Linked DNA regions of Homo sapiens: region 2 is linked to region 1. Evidence: fine-mapped expression QTL. Tissue or cell type: lung. Region 1 holds a variant in brackets; the other region holds the start of a gene. All regions are shown on one strand. Distances are between the middles of the regions.

What was found. PIP is the estimated chance that this variant, and not a neighbour inherited with it, causes the effect.
Region 2: it holds the start of NPFFR1, and the variant in region 1 is fine-mapped to the expression of NPFFR1 in lung (TOPMed, PIP above 0.99).

The regions. Positions count from the first base shown.
Region 1 is chr10:70,353,841-70,356,598 of GRCh38, reverse strand. All of the region lies in intron 2 of LRRC20 (leucine rich repeat containing 20), which reads left to right. Among named protein-coding and RNA genes, the nearest start is that of LRRC20, 27 kb to the left of the region's middle. RefSeq lists enhancers at 724-933, 1,154-1,253. The variant C/T (reference allele first, on the strand shown) is at 1,057.
Region 2 is chr10:70,282,924-70,285,423 of GRCh38, reverse strand. It overlaps NPFFR1 (neuropeptide FF receptor 1), which reads left to right and starts at 1,420. Exons shown (of 4, transcript NM_022146.5): 1 at 1,420-1,754. The coding sequence starts at 1,748. RefSeq lists an enhancer at 1,712-2,213.

The DNA.
Region 1 (2,758 bases):
TTACAGGTGTGAGCTACTCTGCCCAGCACTACATACAGGTTTTAAAACTTTATTTATTTGTTTTTATTTTTTTGAGACAAAGTCTCAAAAGGTCTGGCTCTGTTGCCCAGGCTGGGGTGCAGTGGCATGATCTTGGCTCACTGCAACCTCTGCCTCCCAAGCTCAAGCGATCCTCCCACCACAGCCTCCCAAGTAGCTAGCTGGGACTACAGGCATGCACTACCACACCCAGCTACTTTTTGTATTTTTTATAGAACCAGGGTTTTACTGTGTTGCCCAGGATGGTCTTGAACTCTTGAACTTAAGTGATCCTCCCACCTTGGCCTCCCAAAGTGCTTGGGTTACGGGCGTGAGCCACCATGCCCAGATTGCATACAGGTTTTTGAAAGAGCTCTTGTCCTCACTTTACTGAAGAAGAAACTGAGATTGGAGTTAAGTAACTTGCCTGAGGTCCCACAGCAAGAAAGAGTTGGCCCAAGAAAGGATTCAATTTGGATTCTGAGAAGAAGATATTGCTTTCTAGGTCTCTTGTGTGGTTAGAAGTTATTCTGACTGAGTATGATAGCCACTGGCTGGAGGGCCTCATGCTCAGCTTTCTTCTCTGAGGCCAACTCTCTGTAGCACATTATTTCCTAGAGAGGCAGGGGCTTCTGCAGCAGGACGTGAGAAGGCACCTCTGAGATGCAGGATTCGTGTGTGCGTTTGTCAGAGGGGTGTCCACACAGCCCTCTGAGCGTGCGGCTGCTCTCCCCAGCAGCTCCCGTGAGCTTTGCCCTGGCAGGACTTTAGCTCTGTTCCCTATGTCCCCATCAACACCCATCTCCACTGATCCAGGTTTTTGGGCGTTTGAGGAAAAACATACCCCAAGGGTCACTGCATGTTGGGGATGTTCCTTTCTTTAAACTGGAGATATTTGTAAGAAGTCATTAAGTGCTTGTAAAACTCTTGCACAATATACAAGTCCATGAAATAGGAAGTGAAAGAAAAAAATCCCCCTAAACCCACTGGCACTTTCAAGTTGAGTGGTTTCCCCACGTCTCAGAAGACGCGCCTTCC[C/T]GAAGTGCCTTTCTGCCCTTCTCTTCCCGACAACCCTCCCGGGCCCAGTAGCTGTGTGTGCTATTGCGGTGGGACTTTCTGGACGTATGTGGTCCTCGGTGAGCTCTTCCTCCCATGCCCTTTTCTCTATAAGGGGCATGAGACAGGAAACAGGCTCAGAAACATTGCTCTAGAGATCGGGAGTAAAACACCCCCAAAGACCTGAAAGTGGTTGTCCCTGGGGGAGGGGATTTGTCAAGAGGGAGCAAGTCCGGCTGCTTTTTGTCTTAAGCCTTTTAGAGCCAGCCAGCTCTGTAAGCACTACAACAAACAGCTTTGTTAAAGTGATGCCTAATTGTGCCCAGTGATGCACGGCACGATCCCTTGATGAGCAGTTGTTTTGCTCGCTGTCTGCATCCTGTGTGTCCCTACTTTGGAAATTGAGTGACATTTCAGAGACTGGCAGCTCAAGTCATGGGGGGCTCCTGTTTGACAGAGGGCTGTCTGAAGAGCCTTTGTTTAGTAGAATCATGGAGTCAGAGGATGTCTGGTCTGGTTGAGACCCCAAATCATCTAGTCCAAACCCTCATTTTACAGATGAGGGGACAAGGCCCATGAAGAAGTAGTGTCTCTGAGCTCCCCCTGGCTGATAGTGGAGGGGCTGGGATAAGAATTAGGCCTCCTGAGTTACAGCCCAGGGCGGCCTCCACACCGAGGGTCACGTGTGCCTCTGAGTACCAGAAGCATGAACAAAGCGAGAGAAGAGAGTGAAGAGACTCTGTCTCTGCTGCTCTGTCCTGAAATAGTCTGCTCAGAGGGGAAGCAGGAGGAACCCAGGGCACAAAAAATTTCCATGAGCGTGTAAACCTCATGCCCTTAGGCAGGCAGGAGCAGCCAGCACTCAGTTACTGTCATTACCACCCCATTATCATCATCAATACAGGAAGCAGCTACATCAGGAGGAGGCCTGGCCCCTCTAGGCCAGTGATGCTTCAGCTAAAACACAGATGCCTGGGCCTTACCCCCAGAGTTTCTGATTCTGTGGGACTGGGGTGGTGCCTGAGAATGTGCCTTTCTGACAAGTTCTGGGGTGATGCTAATGCTGTGGGTGATGCTGATGCCCTTGGAGAACCACTGCACTGGAGTAGCCCTTGCTACTTAGTGTGGTCCTTGGACCTGCTGGGTGGAAATGCAGACTCTTACGCCCCACCTAGACATGTGGCATCAGAATCTGCACGTTGGCAGTGTCCCCAGGTGTCACACTTTAGTTTGAGAGGTGATGGTATGGTGCAGAGTTCACCTGGCTGCACGTTAGAGTCACCCAGGGAGCTTTTACCCTCCCTTCCATTCCCAAGCCCCAGCCCCCACTAATTAAATCAGACTCTCTGGGAGAGAGACTTAGGCATCAAGAGTCTATAGAGCTCCCAAGGTGGCTCCTGGTTGTGGCCAAGTCCTAGAATCCACAGTGGCAGCTGCAAGGGGCCTTGGAGATGATCAGTTGCAATTTACCAAGATTTGAAAACTAAGGGCATAAGGACCCAAGGTCCCACAGACAGTAAGTGACAAATCCAGGCTGTTGATACCCTGATGACTCTTTCACCAGCTCTTTCAACTCTAAGTCCCCTTTTATATAGTTCCATGGGAACTGCAATATACTAGTGTTCCCAGGGAACCCATTGTAAATCATGGAAGATCTATCTGCTCATTGGAAACCCACCACCTC
Region 2 (2,500 bases), 71 kb after region 1:
CCCCTAAGGACCTTCTAGCTGTGAGACTCTGCCCACTGCTCTGGACAGAGGAGGAACTAGGGAAAGAAGTGAGACTAGGAAGAATCTTGATGCCAACTGTTTCCCCAGTGTCCAGTGAGCAAACTCCTGACTCCTAAAAGAGGAAGGAATAGACCATTCACTTTCTTTCATCTGCCTAGAACATGGGATCTTTTTTTAAAAAAATAGTTGGGTACATAGTAGGTGTATATATTTATGGGGTACATGAGGTGTTTTGATACAGGCATGTAATGTGAAATAAGCACATCATGGAGAATGGGGTATCCATCCCTTCAGGCACTAATCCTTTGAGTTACAAACAATCCAATTATACTTTTTAAGCTATTTAAAAATATACAATTAAGTTATTATGGACTATAGTCACCCTATTGTGCTGTCAAACAATAGGTCTTATTCATTCTTTCTAGCTATTTTTTTGTACCCATTAACCATCCCTATCCTCCCACTACCCTTCCCTGCTTCTGGTAACCACATGCTTCTACTATGTCCATGAGTTCAACTGTTTTGATTTTTAGATCTCACAAATAAGTAAGAACATGTGACGTTTGCTTCCTGTGCCTGGCTTATTTCATTTAATATAATGATTTCCAGTTCCATCCATGTTGTTGCAAATGACTGGATCTCATTCTTTTTTATGGCTGAATAGTACTCCATTTACATATATGTACCATATTTTCTTTATCCGTTCATCTGTTGATGGACACTTAGGTTGCTTCCAAATCTTAGCTATTGTAAACAGTGCTGCAAGAAAAACACAGGAGTGCAGATAGAACCTGGGATCTTTATTCATGTGGCGAAAATTTATGGTGGTGCCTGCTGGGTGCCTGACAGGGGCTGGAGATGAGTATTCTCCAATTCAGCTCAAGGAACCATTTGTTGAGCATCTACTATGGGCTGGGCTGAAACTTTGGTATCACATTTACTCCCCTCAAAATCATTTTACAAATGCAGAAACACACTCAGGCACAGGTATTATTATAAGAAACTTTTCCAAGGGTACCACCCGGTGAATGCCTGAACTGGTTAATTTCAAAGCCGTGGTCACCTAGCAGAACTTGTCCCCATTCTCCTGGGAGAGCCGGGAGCTGGTGGGGCTCCCCCCTGCCTCCCTCCCGAAGCCCTCCTGTTTTCACAGCTACCTCTCATCCCCTTCTCAGGAAGGCCCAGAGTGCTGGACCCCAGGCTAGGGTGGGCAAGGATGAGGAGTGGGGACAGAGGCTGGCATATGAGGCACGGGAGAGAGGTGGGGAATTACGGGACGCCGCTGCCAGGGCTGCAGTGGGAGGAGGGGTGTGTCCCCTACTTCGGAGGGGCGCTCGGGCTCTGTGGAGAGAGCGCCATGCGGGAGGCGGGCCCGGGGCGCCCTCGCTCGGCGGGCACAGGTGCGCGGGTGCCATGACGACTGCGCCTCACGAGCCCCCTCCTTCCCCTGGTCGGGAGGCGAGGGGCGGCGGGCGGCTGAGCCCTGCGGGCAGCAGCGCTGCGCGGGAGCCAGTCAGCCCGAGGGGAGGGAAACCGGCCAGGGCCCGGGGCCTGGGAGCGCACGCCCCCTGCTCACCTCTGCCCGGACCGACCGGACCTGCGGAGCGCGGAGGCAGGGGCGCAGCCCGCAACCAAGTGCCCGGAGACCGTCCCTCTGCCCGCTGGCCCGAAGGGGCCCGCTGCCTCCCGCCATCGGAGACCGCCGGAGCCCGCAACTGGGGGCATCATGGAGGGTGAGTGGTCCTGGGGCTGGGGGCCAGCCGTGGGGCAGGGTACCGACTCCGGGGCATGGGGCGAAGGGAGAGGAGAGGGCCGGGCAGCTGATCACCCATGGCTGTCCAGAGCCAGACGTTGTGACACTCTGTGTGTGACAGAGACAGAGACACTGAGTGAGGGAGAGAGACCTGGGGTGCCCATGTGTTCATGGTGTGTGTGTGTGTGCGTGTGTATGTGAGACAGAAAAACAGACAGACAGAAAGAGACAGATGGAGAGAAAGACCTGGGGGTGCTCTGTATTCATGTTGTGCCTGTGTGTGTGAAAGAGAGAGAGAGAGAGAGACAGAGACAGAGACATAGAGACAGACACTGAGAGAGGGAGACAGAGACAGGCAGAGAAACACTTGGGGGTGCCTCTGTATTCATGTTGTGCTTGTGTGTGTGTGTGAGAGAGAGAGAGAGAGTGAGAGAGAGAGAGAAAGACCTGGGGTGCCTCTGTATTTGTGTTGTACATATGTGTGTGCATGTACAAGACACACACACACACACACACAAAAAGAGAGAGTCCCTGTTGTGTGTGTGCACGCACACAATCCCTGCTGTCTGAGCAGAGAATCATTTGAGACCAGGTGAGGACAGCTTGGCTATTAGCTTCAGAAGAATTGTCACCGACTTTGTCTGCTTGAAGGGGTGGGGTTGTTGGGGAGATGGGATTCTAGAGGTGATATCCTCCATGTAGAGAGAATTTCTCTCCCTAAGGAAA